4 separate regions of the Homo sapiens genome follow, and regions 2, 3 and 4 are each reported to be linked to region 1. The links are microRNA targets in miRTarBase. Many come from high-throughput screens and were not tested one by one. Region 1 holds a microRNA gene; each other region holds the end of a gene's coding sequence.

Region 1 (4,150 bases):
GCAGCCTCAAACTCCTGGGCTTAAGCAATCCTCCCACCTCAGCCTCCAAGTAGCTGGGACTACAGGCATGCACCATCATGCCTGGCTAATTTTTGTTTTAGAGTCAGTCTTGCTATGTTGCCCAGGCTTGTCCTGAACTCTTAGCTTCAAGCAATCCTCCTGCCTCAGCCTCCCAAAGTCCTGGGATTACAAACATGAGCCACCGCACCTGACTGAAAACTGTTTTTAAAAGTGTAAGCTGATCTACTAAGTTCAAATATAATGTCATCATTTCATTTGGGTTCAATAATTTTTAAATGGCATTGGTAGATACTGAGATTACAAAGATGAAAAGACTTTGTCTCTGCCTTTCAAGAGCCCAAAGTCTAAAAGTGGGGGGAATCACACAAAGACTTCATTTTAATTAAACTTTGTTAGGACTAAGAGAGAGGTGTTCTTTGGGATCACAAGGGCCATACTAGGAAGACTGGGCTTTATTTTAAAAGCAGTCGGCCAGGCGTGGTGGCTCATGCCTATAATCCCAGCACTTTGGGAGGCCGAGGCGTTTGGATCATTTGAGGTCATGAGTTCGAGACCAGTCTGGCTAATATGGTGAAACCCCGTCTCTACTAAAAATACAAAAATTAGCTGCGTGTGGTGGCACACGCCTATAATCTCAGCTACTCGGGAGGCTGAGGCGGGAGAATTGCTTGAACCCAGGAGGCGGAGGTTGCAGTGAGCCGAGATCACGCCACTACACTCCAGCCTGGGCGACAGAGCAAGACTCTGTCTCAAAAACAAAACAAAACAAACAAAAACAAAGAAACAAACAAACAAAAAACAGTCTCTATTGGGAACCATGGAAGGTTTTTAAACTGGGGATTGACATGATTAGTTTGTGTTTTAGACATATCATCCTGGAAGCTGTTTAGAAGACTGATGTGAAGGCAGCAGGGCTAGTATCAGAGAGATGAGTGAGGAGACAGTTGTAGTAGTTTGGGTGAGAAATGATAGAAGCTTGAATGAAAAGCAGTGGTGATAAGAATGGAGAAGAGGAGGTCAGATTCAATAAATATTTGATAGATAAAACTGTAGGACTTAGTGTGATGAGGAATGAGGAAGCTGGAGAAGTCTAGGATGGCTCGCAGATTTCTAGCTTGGATCGCTGGGTGGATGGTGGTGCCATTAACTGAGAAAAGGAATATAGGAAGAGGTTTGCAGGCTGAAATGAAGAGGTAGTTTTGGATAATACTTAGGTATAAGGCACCTGGAAAAGGATGGAGAGGATGTGCCCAGCAATCAATGTAACTTTGATCAAGCTATTTAACCTCTCTCTGCCGCAGTTTCCTGATTTATAAAATGGCAGCATTGTAACAAGGGCTAACAATAATAAATATATTCGGCCGGGCACAGTGGCTCACACCTGTAATCCCAGCACTTTGGGAGGCCAAGACAGGTGGATCATGAGGTTAGGAGTTCAAGACCAGCCTGGTCAACATGGTGAAACCCCGTCTCTACTAAAAATACAAAAATCATCTGGGCATGGTGGCATGTGCTTGTAGTCCCAGCTACTTGGGAGGCTGAAGCAGGAGAATTGCTTGAACCGGGGAGGTGGAGGTTGCAGTGAGCCGAGATTGCGCCACTGTACTCCAGCCTGGGCAACAGAGCAAGACTCCATCTCAAAAAAAAAAAATTAAAAATAAATAAATAAATAAATAAATTCATATTTATATGTGTAAATTTTTCCCCAAATTCAAGCATTTGGGATTTTTCACCTAATTTACTTTGGGGAAGTTGCAAACTATATTAACTGTTTATTAAATATGTATCTAGCTCTCTATAAGAAGACTTGCCGAGTGGTATTGGAGGCATATTTAAATTTATAAGTGCAGCTTTATGTAAGCCAACTCAATGAAAATACAGAAGTAAAAGAAAGATCAGATAGTGATAATCTGCTGCCACAAAAGACTCAGAATAAGATTCTTTTAATTAGACATTCCTCCTGGTGAATATAAGCCAATTTACTTTGGAGAAATTAGACTTACATAAATTTCAAAAATAAAGATAGCTAACTTTTATTTTTTTCATACTGCATCCTAATTAATATTTTTTTTTATCCTCACAACAATTTTATTGTGGTAGATACTATTAGCCTTCTCATTTTAGGTTAATAGTATCTACCGCAATAAAGAAACAGAGGCTAAGAGAGGTTGAGTAGCATAACCAAAACCATTAATCAGGTAAGCAATAAGCCAGGACTCAAACCCAGTCCTCTCTGACTACAACCAAGAGCTGTTGTTATATATAGAGCCATGTACTCTGATTGTATATAAAGCTGTGGTTAAATCAATTTAATGATCAAAATAATCATCTGGTCTGATTTATGTGGAAATTATTGACCCTTCACTATTGCTTTCATATTCCTCTTCCTCTTTAGCATTCTCAGTTAATTTCTAGGTTCTGTTTGTAATCTGCACGTGAGGTCCCATTATTTCCCTGTCCATCTTCCCTTCCTCTCGTTATATTGCTCTATTCAGCACACAAATTGGACATGTTCAGTAAACAAGGCAGGCCTTGGCTTAAAACAGCAAAATTTGTGATATCTTCAGAAGAGCTTTCTTCAAACCCATTCCTGACCTGTGCTTGTGGAGCCAGGACTGCTGAAATTACTGTTGCTCAGCCCAGCAGCCCGTCAATACAGAAACTTTACAGAGGAAAGCAAATGCACATTCATGATGAGATGGGTTGGTGGTGCTGGAGGAATTTGCTGTGTGGGAATGGAGATGTGAAGAGTTGTTTGTTCTTCATAAGAGAGCGTGGCTGTGCTTCTCCCAGGAAATGGAAAGGATGCCAGCTGAGCACAGGCACCTCTAGCACTGGAGCAGTCAAGTACATAGGAGAATGAGCACAGCAGGATTCCTCATAAGATGGAGCTATGTTTGAACGAGGGCACTTCTGGACTCCTCAGACCCACGTAGGCTATCTAGGCCAGGGATAGTGTCTGCTCATGGTTATTTGCCTGAATAGTGACCAAAAGTTTTGAGAAGAACCTTGCCGAAGGACAGAACTTTAAATTAATTTAACATGCAGATTTTTTGAATGGTTGGACTGTATTTATCTTTTCATGGTGGCAAGGCACCTCAATAATCAGGATGCATTGTGTTCAGGATCTAATTTCCCAAATGTCAGCATGCAATACATTTCAAAAGTCATTCACTTTGCAATGTATTTTTCCCATTACACTCATATGGCAGAAATTATTGCAAATAATAGCCTAGGAAGTTGCGATCGTCATTATATCAGCTAAGGGGTCTGACTGGGCTGTTGACAGTGAAGGTTATTTCTACTGAAAAGAGAAAGAGAATTCCACACTAGTTCAAAAATAAACATATTTGATGTCTTCTATCAACTGCTCCTCCACCTCTCTCTAGCTTCATACTTTCCCTTGATTCCTCAAGCCTGTCTATTTATAGATGCCTGAATGTATAATAACTTACTATTTTGCCTCCGTGTATTGCATGTAATTCTCACTGCTTAGAAAAATCTATGCCCCTTCTTTTCTGTATATTTCCATCTAATCTTTAAAGCCAAAATTTACCTTTTTTCAGATGCCTTCCTTATAATAAACACATCCCAAGTGTAATCATTTTTTCTTTTTCTTTTCCTTATCTATTGCAGCTTTAGTCTACACTACACCATATTTCTTGACGTTACTAAAATGTTTCTTTGGATTTTACCTCAAGTTGGTTTATGGGTGTGTGTTTTAGCCTCCAATTAGATTTTTTTCTCTGGAAAGCTCAAGGGCTGTGTCTTTTATTTCTTTAACATCCAGAATAGTACAATGACTCATATTAGAATGAAATAAATGACATACCTGTGATATACTCTCACCAGCCTTATACATTTGACAAGGATACCAAGAAAGATTTTATTAAAGAGGCATCAAATCAATTTCAAAAGGTTAAAGATGAAATATGAACATCCAATCTGTCCTTCATGGATTTTTCATCCAAGACCTTATTAAAGCTTTTCTTGTTTATATTTATATTAGTTTCCTTTATCAAATCTCAGAATAACAATTAACAAATTGATGGAAGATTCTGTCTTAGAAAACAACAAGGTCAGTCACTCATTACCAATTTATTCTTCAACAAATTTAATTATCCCATAA
Region 2 (4,000 bases), not on the chromosome of region 1:
AAGTAAAGCTCAGCGAGCTGGGGTGGCTCACCCAGTCCAAGGGCAGATTGCAGGGACTCCTCTTCACCACATCTTGTCCATTCCCTTACTCGTGAGGGTCTCCTGAGCACTGGTAGTGAGCAGGTGCTGGACATGCCACAGGGAACACGGCAGATCCTCCGCCGTCCCGAAGCACACATCATGGTGCTCCCCTTGACTTTCACCAGGATGACTCCGGGTATGGGCCAGTTACCTGAACATCCTGGGGGGGCCCACGTCCCTTCTACTTGTCCTCAAGAATGACTTAAAGAGTCTGGTCTGACCCTCCCACAGGTTTCTGCCCATGGAGGGGCAACTGGACAGCAGCTATCACCACGGCATATGTAGCCACCGCTAACTCATTAATGCTGCTTCCAGGAACTTATCTTCTAGAAGTGCTTGAATATGTACAGAGGGGCACTAGCCTAATAATATTTATTGCAGCATTGTTTGTAATATAAAAGTAGTAAAAACAACTCAAATTTCCACCAATAGGGATCTCACTGCAGGTCATTAACATTTGTTATGGGAAACATACACAATGGAATACCACTAGCTGTAAAAAAAAAAAAATTTTTTTTTAAAGGGAGATCTTTAACGCAAAACTCTCCAGGATATATACATATCTTTTCAGGGTGCATGTGATAATTTAATACATTCATATTCTCCAGGATATATATATATTTTTTTCTCTTTTTTTTTTTTTTGAGACGGAGTCTTGCACTGTCGCCCAGGCTGGAGTGCAGTGGCATGTTCTAGGCTCACTGCAACCTCCGCCTCCCAGGTTCAAGCGATTCTCCTGCCTCAGCCTCCCGAGTAGCTGGGATTACAGGCACTCGCCACCATGCCCAGCTAATTTTTTGTATTTTTAGTAGAGACGGGGTTTCACCATGTTGGCCAGGCTGGTCTCGAACCCCTGACCTCGTGATTCGCCCGCCTCGGCCTCCCAAAGTGCTTGGATTACAGGTGTGAGCCACCACACCTGGCCCCCCAGGATATATTTTTAAAGGGCAAGGTCAGTACAGTATGTGGAATATGTTAATACGTATATAAAAAATCGCCAAGAATAAAATATACCAAATTGCTTAAATACGCAAAATACTTCTAGAAGGGTTCATAAGTAACTGAGACCAGGGTGGCTGGGGACGGGGTAAGAGGGAGACTTCATTATATCTCTGCTGTATTTAAAAAAATATGTACCATGGGCAAAGGTTACGCATTTAAAAATACATAAATAAAATTTAAAGTGTTAGTCTCTCAGTGCATATTCCCTGGTTTCTCGGCCTTTCTTTGCTCTTGGCCTGCCTTTGCTGGCAGCAAGCGTTTTATGGGAGGCCCCCACTTTGGCAGTTTACACTCTGCAGTCCAAACCCCGTTTCCAGACTGAATCTGAGGTCCGGGAAGATCCGCCACAAGGAGGCACTGTCTGCTGCTGGCCGGTTGGTGAACGGAAAGCCAGTCCTCCCCAGGGCGCCTTTGGTCAGGGCCTTTGCTGAGCAGGAGCTCACCTCCCTGTCCCCACTTACCCCACCCTGGTCCCAACATTCCTCCGAGAAATCTGGAAAATTGGAAGTTAGGAATTCACTTTGTATCCCTGTTACCACCGACCCCAATTTGGAAGGTGCCCCTCACCCTCCTTGGGGCTCACGGGAACATGGGTGTGAATGCCTGGTGTGAAGAGATGTGTTCCCTCCCCTGGGCTGGCTCCCCATTCCAGCCAAGAAACCCTCCCAGTCACTGGACAGAGTCAGAACAGTTGAAACTCTGCTGGAGGGTGGCTGAGGGGACAGTGTGACACCCTGGGAACCACTGAGCCTACTCGCATGGCTGCCATCCACCTACCACGTCACTCCGCAAGTCTTTATTGCCACCCACCAGGTGCAAAGGTCTTCCTCCAACACCTGCCTTGAATGTAGGGGTGACCATGGGGCCTTTGCTCCAGCTGTTCCCCCCACCCTGCCCCCACCTTCCCAGCCCCCCAGCTGTGGGCCCTCAAGGCAGTTCCCATCCTGCCTCCTGGGCTGCAGCTGCCCAAAGGCTCCAGTCAAGAGCGGCTGATCAGTGCCTGGGGCAAAAGAGGATGCCCAGCCCTGGGGGCCCTGGCATTCAGAGCTGAGCAGACAGACCCTTGGAGAATGACAGCGTAAGCACAAGCTACAGGAGAATGGCCATGCCCTCAAGATGCAGGCTCCAGCAAGGAGGACGCCCTCCCTGGGGGCTGGTCTGTTTCTGGTAGTGACCCCAGGGCCTGGCACTGAGGCAGCCCTTGGGAGTCTGGTAGACGGACACAGGCTAGCCTTCCCATCCAATCTGATGATCGTGCTGTCATCTGATGTTCCTGGTCTAACACCTAGGCAGTAGGTGGAGGCAGGGGATACAGGTCACACAGGCTACCTCCATGGGCAGCAGCCTCCATGGGAATGGAGGGAACAGCCCTCTGGGGGCTCCTCCTGGGCCCTTCCAGGGGTCACCCAGTGAGATCCTACGTGGGGCAAGGGTGCCCTGGATGAGAGTCCCTTTGTTGAGGTCCCCCCATCTGCATGAGTCCTTGGGGTGCTAAACTACAGCAGAGCCCTCAAACTGCAAAGCTGAGGGTCAGTTCTGAGCAAGGATGCAGGGGAAGGCACAGTGCCCCTAGAAGGCTGCTGGGGGCCATGGCCTCCTGTCACCTCTACCTGGCTTCTCCAAAACCCTGGGGGCCCTGCCCTTCTGTGGTGCCCACAGAAACGTGTGTTGGAGGGAAGGAGGCGGGAGATGAGGTGGGTTCACTCCCCCTACCCAGAGGGACCAGAGGACTAAAACAAACCAGCTTTAATACCAATATAGTTCTCTCTTAAATACCGTGTTTCCCAGGACAAATGCAGGGGCAGGCTCTTGGCAGAAAGAGTAGAAAGGAAATGTGGAACAAAATGGAATGGATGGCCCAGGCCCAGGGTCCCTGCCTTGGGCACTAGGGACTGGGCTGCCTCGGGGATGGGGGAGTGACAGCAGCTCCCCCTGGTCCAGTTATTGCAGAGGCGTCGGGGGCTCCCCTCCCTCCCCAGGCCTGAAACATTTCTCAGGATTACTTCTGACCTTCAGCCCCAGCAGGGCCAGGGCCTGGGCTCCTCTGGTCTAGGATGGGCCCCTTTGCCCAAAAGGGCCTGCAGCTAAGGCGTGGGGTGGGGCGGGGAGCCCCTGGACAGGCCCGCTGCTCTTAGTAGGTGCTCTGGTGGCCCGTGAGGATGTAGAGGTTGCTGTGCGCCTCTGGGTTGTCAGTGGGAATGCTCTCCAGGATGATGTCTCTGGAGGAGAGAGGAGTAGGGGGCAGGGCGGGAGACACTTGGTACATCAGCCCCTTCTCTGGCCTCAGGGGCATCTGAAGGGGAGGCTAGGGTACCACCGCCTACCTGTGGGCCCCAAGCACTCGGAAGATCCTTGTTTCATCTGTGATCTCCTGGGTCACCTGGGAAGACAGGTGGGAAGCACTGAGGCCACTCCAGTAGGTCCTTTCCAAAGAGGTAGGGACCACAAGGCAGGGGACAGCAAGGTCCCTGGGCCCCACTCACCTCATTGGTATCCAGGCTTCGGCCTTGCATCCCATGGCTCCAGAAGGCCAGCACACTGTCCTGCAGGCACACTATGGGGGCCAGGCCACCATCAGCCCTGCACCCATCTTGGCACCCCCTCAGCCACGCCTGAGCCTGGGTCTGGGCCACAGGGGTCCTCACTGACCTCAGGTGACCAGGATGGCTCAGGAGAGGGGCTAGGGGATCTGCCTCCTCATCCTACCGCCAGCCCCAGGCCCCTGAGCAACAACGTGCTCCAGGCCAGGGAAAGGCCTGCACCCCACCTCTGGCTCACTCACCCACAGTCTCGATGGGGAAATCAAAGGTCAGCTCAGGTGCCAGTGTGGCCGTGGGCTCGCCCTGCATGTTGACAATCCTCACACAGCCTGCACAGGGAAGGAATTGGTGAGTGGGGACGGGGAGGCTCCCTTCTG
Region 3 (4,000 bases), not on the chromosome of region 1:
CAATAGATTGGTAATACAGTCTTGAGAAATTTGATATGTCCCGAGTGAACAATAAAAATATTTTAAATGTACTTTTCAAGTGAAGGTCATAAATTAGGATAAGGTACAAATGATAATGAAAGTGGTACTTACTTGAGAAAATATTTCTAGATTGTTATTTAAATGACAAAACATATTTTTGTTTCCTCTTTACCTATATGTGAAGGATATATTATACAGAGATAAGTGCATGAGGTATAACTAGTTAACCCAAACCTGTTATGTGGCATGCTTTGAGGTAACACCATAGTCCTTTTTGTGAAGGAAGTATTATATCTAGACTTCCCTCTTATGAATTATTTCTATAACATTATTTTAGAGCAAGAATTCCAAGCAAATTGCTTTACCTGGATTTTGAATTCTTATTTTCAGAATGCAAATACTCTATTCTTCAAGAGTGAACTCAAGACTACCATAAATAAATTTCATTTGTTTCTCAGCCTGTATTTCAGATTCTCAGACCCAGTGAGAGCATAACTGTGACTGTTAGGAGTAATGTCTAATTGTTGTATATTTAATTCTAACTTCTGTCCTCTGGTCAAATTCCAGGCTGCCAGGATATCGCAGATGAATTCAGAGCACAGGAGATTGATGGACAGGCCCTTCTCTTGCTGAAAGAAGACCATCTCATGAGTGCAATGAATATCAAGCTAGGCCCAGCCCTGAAGATCTGTGCACGCATCAACTCTCTGAAGGAATCTTAACAGGAACATGAAGCCTTGATAAAACAGCAGTTTTACTTTTCTCACAAAAACTTGTAAGGTAAAGGCCTAACTTGGTCTAGAATATGACACTTATTGTGGTGGATAGCCAAGCACATTGGGATCTCCACATCAAATACTGACATTTCTTCTACAGGTATAATAATTCATCATGCATTTTCATAATTAATAAACATTGGTAAAATTAATTTTACAGGTTACATGAAACATTGAAAGACTTGTTACAGAGGGCCATGATATTTTTCAAAGAAATGTGTTATACTAGATAATTTTTTTAAAGGTGATGTTTATCATTAATATAAAGAATCCTTTTAAAAGTAATTTAATGATTTACATTTCTCCTCTTTTGATTCAATTTTCTTATACATTTTTTCTACCCTATTAGTTTTCTAAAGGTTGTCATGAGAGGTATATTATGGAATAATTTAGTAGTCCAGTGACAGAATCGTATGAAATCAGTGTACATTTTAAAAAACATGTCTTTTAGACATATGCTTTATCTATAAAAAAGGAATTGTGTTCTAGTATGAACAATACTGATCTGGAAGTGAGAAGAGTTAGTTTCTATTCCAAACTTGACCAAGAATTTGGTTTGACTGAGAACGTTTTCCTCTCAGTTTTTGTACATTTATTTAGAGCAGTGGTTCTCAGTGGAGGTCAGTTTTGATCGCCAGGGGACATCTGGCAATGTTGAGACATTTTGGTTGTCACAGCTTGGGGGTGGGTTCAGGGGAGGGTTGCTACTGGTGTCTAGTAGTTAGAAGCCAGAGATGTTTCTAAACATCTTATAATGCACAGGACAGCACCCCTCCACTGTAAAGAATTATTGGTTCAAAAATATCGGTACTGCCAAGGTTGAGAAACTCTGATATAGAAGGAGTGATAAATATTGTTTTCACCCAAAGGAATACTTTTAAAGGATGAAGCTTACTAAACATATATGATGGAAGTATTATTCAGATAACATTAATATTCTGCTGAATAATTTTTTCTAGTTTAATCATACTAGAAAAAGAAAAAAAATCTACAAATTGTCCTATAAAATAAGGACAAACATGCAAATAATTTAACTCTCAGAAAGTACTAATTCATTCTGATTATCTTTCATACCTCTGTGCTCCTCTGCACTGACGAAGACATAATATGATTATACCTATGAACTAGTGCACAGCCTTTTCTGGCAAGAAAATAGTTTGTAGCAGATACGTGGTTGCTCTTTGGATTTTTTTCTATTGTTGAACATGCTGGGACTAGCTAGAATGCACATTCCTACTTCCTTTACCAAACGTTTGCATGCTTCCTGCAAAGCACTTACCAAGTGATTTCTCTTGAACCATCGGATATAATTTTGTATGTACATGTTTGAGGAAAAAAATGTAAAGCAAAACCTTTTACTGAACAGTGTTCTATAGAATTATGACACTAAAACAAAATTGTTTGTGGAAGCCCTGAAAGCTTTATAGTCCTGGACATCAAAAATTTTATTTGAGATGATGAATGTTTTGTTTTCATCTTTTCTTATATTACCACAATTGAGATATTTTAGTAATTGAAGGAACATACACAGATATTTGGCAGAAGTCGAGTAAGGAGGGGAAAAAAAGAGTCCGTGAGTTTCAGTCATTTTCACTGCTCTTTTCAAAAAGATTGTGTTGAGCTGGTAGAAGACTAAAGATGTCACTGAAGACATCACAGATACTATATTTATCTTTTGGCTTTGTGTACATTAGAGAATGTTGATTATTTTTATACAAAAATACAGCGGGTAATTTTTTTAATCTTTAGATGCCTCTTGTTTGAATGTATGCTTTGTGGAATTCTTTGTGTAGTAATGTTTTAAAAAAAGATGTTTACTGATAGTTACATGTAGGATTAGAATATGTAATATAATATAAGGCTCATGTTCCAGACCTACGATAGCTTGTAGTCTATGTTACGTATTTCTTTATATCACATTTTTAATCATTGGATTAAAGTATCAAGGAAAGCTAGGTACTCTATAATGAGTTTTCATTTATTAGCAGTTAATCATCATGACAGAATTGTCATATGCTTGACTTTTCCCTCTTCTTGGAATTTCAGAACACAAATACAGGCTAAGCATTAGTAAGAGATGGCCCACAGTATGAGAGAGAGAGGTGCAACGGAAAATCTCGCCTGGAATTAAAACTTTTCATAGATTATCCACGGTTAATACAAAATTTATTATATGGGGATAGACTGCTCCAGCAATAATGATTACATCCTATAACTGTATTACCTATGGCCTTTAAGGTATCAATTTTGAACTGTGTTGTAGGCTCTCCTTTTATTTGTTCTCTTTCCTAATAGCAGCCATTCTGTACTTATTGAAAGCCCCTGTGCCTACTGCTGTCTTAAGTATTCAGGAGGGGCTTACAAGAGGGTTTTCTATTGGAGAATACCGTATAATCTTAAATCTAGTCCAGATCTCTGTTGTCCCCACTCAAAACATACACAAAATATGCACTTGCTTTTTTCAAGTGAGTTTTTATTTAAAAATGGCTTGTTTGCTATCACATTGGTGCAGCTGTTTCTTTCAAGATGAGTTAATCATCTTAATTTCAAAGCTTCAGCTATATATAATGGATATATAGACAACACTGAGCATCCACCTCTCTCCTGAGCTTTAAAGCAGAGTTTCAGTATGATATAGGTGGGGAGAGTAAATTGTTTTCATATCCTTTCATACTACTACTAATAGTTTTAGGATTTTGACTGGGGAGAGATAATGACAAACAGAAAGGGAACATGGAGGTTCTTCCTACTTTTGCTACCTAAGTTTGCATTTTCTGACTTCCTTGCAGTGTTGCACTCTTTGTCCCATTGGGATAAAAAGCATAAGTTTGAAATTTTGCTTTAAGCCTTGTGTTCCTGGGGAAGTTAAACAACTAAGAGAGCTGATTTGTAAAAATTATTTTTTATATGACATTAATATTCATCAAGCCTTGTGTAGGCATGTGTAAGACACAGCTATGCAGCTTTGAGTAGTCAATATAGTATGAGATAGAGTGTTGTCCCAAATCCTCCTGTCACTTTTTAAGTAGCATATTATTTCCCTGATGGTCCTGTTACTTTGCTGTTGAATGCTCTAAACAGAACTTTTTAAAAGGTGTGTTTTAAGAGCAGTCACCTAGGAGTAGACAAGGTGGAATGGGAGGAGAGAAATGGTAATGCAAAAGCTTGAGCATGGGAAGAGTCAGAGGAGGAGGCCATCATCC
Region 4 (4,000 bases), not on the chromosome of region 1:
AGGCACTTCTTATAGATTATCTTTTTTTAAATGTTTCCCCACCTTTTCATGGTATCACATAGGTTATCTTTTTTGATCATCATGTCATCCCTGAGTAGTAAGTAGGGTGGGTGGTATTAGCCCTATTTCACAGAAAAAGAAAATGAGCCCCCAAAAAGGAAAGGTTAAATCACTTGTGCAAGGTCCCTTTTCTAATGAGATATGAAACTAGCACTGGAAGTCAGGTCTTCTGAGTCCTGATTCAGTGCTCATTATAATATTAGAAGCTTTCTCAATGTAACTTAATTTTGGTCTAATAAATGCCAATTTATGTTCATTTTCCAGAATCAAGTTCTTTTATTTCTCAAAGACATTTTTGACTTTGAGAAGGTGCGCTATTCAAGTACAGAGACTTTAGCTGAAGACCTCATGCAGTTACTCATTCGCCGCACTGAGCTTTTAATGGCCTATCTTGAAGCAGATGCCCTGAGGCATACAAGTAGTTGTCTAAGCAGTCATGGTCATGTTATGTCCACTGGGCTACTGGAAGCCAAAGTACAATAAGTACCATAAGAATCATACAATTTGAGTGTGCTATGAAATATTTTAAGGTAACTATTGATTTTGTAACATATATTACAAAGTTAACAGAATTGATGCATGTGGATTCAGGGAGGAAAAAAAAATCTACTAAAAAATGAGCAACTGTACTGTATTTATACAGAAGTTCTGTCATTGAATTCCTGTGTAGTGTAGTCATAGTGGCTTTTTGCATTCATTAGGTAATAATTGAAGTCATGAAATGTATATTTTACAGAAATATCGCTTGAATTGAAGCCAATATTTGGGAGTTAATTGGTTTGTCTTCTTGAAGCTGTCATTCTCAAAAGCTCTGTTTTTATGCTTTGCACCTTTAAAATGTACACTTTAGCCAAGGTCTTTGTGGCCCACACATGCAAGAATATATTACTTCTAATGTCAATATATTTAACTTTGCCTAGAAACATATTTTTAATTATAAAGTTATTCATTTGTTTAATCAAGTTTAGGCAGTAATGATGTTTAATATGTACTGCATACATTATTGCTTGTGCATTTGCTTATGTATTTGAATCAAAGAAATTGTAATCACTGAATATTGTTATAGAACATTTAAATGGGCCACTTGCAGTGGCTCATGCCTGTAATACATTGGGAGGCTGAGGCAGGAGGACAGTTTGAGGCCAGGAGGTTGAGACTAGCCTGGACAACATAAGGAGATGCCTGTCTCTACAAAAACATAAAAATAAATTAGCTGGTATCAAGCAGAGTTCCATGGAAATATTAAAATTTTTTTAAAAAATAAAAATAGGCTGGGTGTGGTGGTTCATGCCTGTAATCCTAGCACTTTGGGAGGCCAAGGTGGGCGGATCACCTGAGGTCAGGTGTTCGAGACCAGCCTCCCCAATATGGTGAAACCCCGTCTCTACTAAAAATACAAAAATTAGCCAGGTGTGGTGGCGGGCGCCTGTAGTCCCAGCTACTCGGGAGGCTGACACAGGAGTATTGCTTGAACCCAGGAAGTGGAGGCTGCAGTGAGCCGAGATCGCACCACTGCACTCCAGCCTGGGCAACAAAGTGAGACTCTGTCTCAAAAAATAAATTAATTAAATTAAATTAATTAGTTGGGTGTGGTGGCATGTGTCTGTGGTCCCAGCTACTTGGGAGGCTGAGGTGGGAGGATCACTTGAGTCCAGAAGGTCAAGGCTGTCATGAGCTGTGATTGCATCACTGCACTCCAGCCTGGGCGACAGCAAGACCCTATCTCAGAAGTGAATAAATAAAACAAATACAGCATTTAAATGAATTGACATTGAGAAATTTACAATTTACAAATTTATATTAACTGTAGTTTCCAAAATATGTTACTGTTGGTCCTGTAAGTTACAAAGAGACTGAAGAACTTTCTTTTTATACATTAGAGCATTTTCCCCTGGAATGAGTATTGATTAAAAAGATAACATTTATTAATTAATAAAGGCAATTTAAAATTTAGTGTTATTTGAAGACTGTCAACATCTGAAGGTATGAAACTTGGTACAGTGAAATAATTTCTCCTTTCTCCTTCCTTTTAGTTATTCCCACAGAAAACTCAGCCCAGTGGGAATTTGTCATATTATGCCCATGTTTTAAAAATATTCATAGTTTGAATCTTATTGACATTTTAAAGAAGAGTTTTTTCCTCCCTGGAATGTAAAACAAAAATATTTTTTAATGATGTGGAAGTATATATTTCATGTTCATTATGATAAATCTACAAACAAATGAATTGTTTTTATGGGTGGAGTTCTTCTATAAGAGTATATTAAATGCTTTCAGAGTTGTATTAATTTTGTTTCTAAATAATATACCACTTATTTGGAGTGACTAACTCAGTATGTAAGTAGATGAGATTTGTTGATTTTGCCCCTAAAACGGGCTTTAGTCATTTTAGGAGTGAGTTGCACAAAAGGACCTAAAATGCATTGTTTTTTGCCTTCTTTTAAGAGATGGGGTCTCGCTCTATTGCCCAGGCTGGAGTGCAGTGTGCTATCATACATAGCTCACTGCAGTCTCCAACTCCTCATACCAGAGGCATGTGTCACCATGTCTTACTCCTAAAATGCATTTTTAAAAAGCGAATTTTTAGATTAAAGTGCCTAGTTTCTGATTAATAAATAGAAGATGAAAAAAGTGGGCGGGAAAAGCATAATCTTTTAAGATTTGTAATTTTCTGTATGTGCCACATTTATGTAAATTAACTATAAAATATGGAATTCAGGATCATGCTGTTTTGCATGTACTTTATAGGTTATATAGCATGAAACATACAAATTATCACTGTTCTTTAGTATATAGCTCCTTGCCTTTTCTTACATAGATGCTTAATTTAACAATTACCTATTTATAGTTCTTATTATTGACGGGAATATGATTAGAAGTACCAAAACTAAAAATTCCATTATGTACTGTTTACTTTTTATTTAATATTACATGTTTTTACCTTGTTGCGGTATCTTTGGCCTTCACACACACATGTGTGCGTGCACGTGCATTTCATTACCATGTAGACAAGACAGTTATTGCTTATAGTAATTTACCCATTTGAGGGCTAAGTGTTTTAAGCTGTGGTTTTATAAGCAAAGCTGTAAGTAAATGTAATTTATTTTAGAAAGATATTATTTGAAATCAATTTTGAAGAATTGCACTATTTGATAATGCTGCTACTACATGAGATAACTCTGGGGAATTAATTTTATGAGATAAGATGAATGGCTTTCTAGAAGGTGTTGCTTTTTGTTTTTTCTTTTTCTTTTTTACATTTCATCTTAGAAAAAGTTGCTTATATTCAGCAGGTTGGTTTGTCAAATTCAGTGTTTGAGTTTGTTTCTGGTCAGTTCAGTAGCTGCTACTTTAGCAAGATGTGGCCTTTCACAAAAGAGGTAAGAGTGACCAAATAGAATTTTAGGACAATAAGTATAGGAAATATCTCTTTATCGTAAGATAAGAAACTTGAACTTTTTAAAGGAAATGTCCTCTTGAAAAGAACATTTCTGACTGCATGCAGAAGGGTACTTAAGACATATATAACAGGCCAGGAGCAGTGGCTCACGCCTGTAATCCCAGCACTTTGGGAGGCCCAAGTGGGCAGATAACCTGAGGTCAGGAGTTTGAGACCAGCCTGACCAACATGGTGAAACCCCATCTCTACTAAAAATACAAAAATTAGCCAGGCATGGTGGCGCATGCCTGTAATCCCAGCTACTCGAGAGGCTGAGGCAGGAGAATCGCTTGAACCCGGGAGGCGGAGGTTGCAGTTAGCCGAGATCGTGCCATTGCACTCCAGCCTGGGCAACAAGAGTAAAACTCTGTCTCAAAAAAAAAAAAAAAAAAAAAAAAAAAGACATATGTAACGGTTTCCATTTGCCTTAAAATTGGGTTAAATAGCAAAAGCAATGTCTTTAAAAATGATTAGTTTAGAGCCTTTTAGGGTAAACCCTGT

What was found. Region 1 holds the annotated microRNA hsa-miR-633 (CUAAUAGUAUCUACCACAAUAAA, at 2,109-2,131, opposite strand). A microRNA usually pairs through its seed, bases 2 to 8, with sites in the 3' UTR of a target mRNA and lowers its output. Matches are read on the target gene's strand: a 7mer-m8 pairs with bases 2 to 8, a 7mer-A1 pairs with bases 2 to 7 and ends in A, and an 8mer does both.
Region 2: the mRNA of MAP4K2 is a reported target of hsa-miR-633. The part of its 3' UTR that is shown has no 7-base or 8-base seed match.
Region 3: the mRNA of PHC3 is a reported target of hsa-miR-633. The part of its 3' UTR that is shown has no 7-base or 8-base seed match.
Region 4: the mRNA of MIGA1 is a reported target of hsa-miR-633. The part of its 3' UTR that is shown has no 7-base or 8-base seed match.

The regions. Positions count from the first base shown.
Region 1 is chr17:62,942,256-62,946,405 of GRCh38, reverse strand. It overlaps MIR633 (microRNA 633), which reads right to left and starts at 2,191; the gene lies at 2,094-2,191.
Region 2 is chr11:64,786,323-64,790,322 of GRCh38, forward strand. It overlaps MAP4K2 (mitogen-activated protein kinase kinase kinase kinase 2), which reads right to left. Exons shown (of 32, transcript NM_004579.5): 29 at 3,866-3,952; 30 at 3,567-3,637; 31 at 3,408-3,463; 32 at 1-3,302. The coding sequence ends at 3,215. Among named protein-coding and RNA genes, the nearest start is that of SF1, 9.8 kb to the left of the region's middle. RefSeq lists an enhancer at 3,687-4,000.
Region 3 is chr3:170,093,973-170,097,972 of GRCh38, reverse strand. It overlaps PHC3 (polyhomeotic homolog 3), which reads left to right. Exons shown (of 15, transcript NM_024947.4): 15 at 589-4,000. The coding sequence ends at 743. Among named protein-coding and RNA genes, the nearest start is that of GPR160, 58 kb to the right of the region's middle.
Region 4 is chr1:77,874,522-77,878,521 of GRCh38, forward strand. It overlaps MIGA1 (mitoguardin 1), which reads left to right. Exons shown (of 16, transcript NM_001416120.1): 16 at 325-4,000. The coding sequence ends at 543. Among named protein-coding and RNA genes, the nearest start is that of NEXN, 12 kb to the right of the region's middle.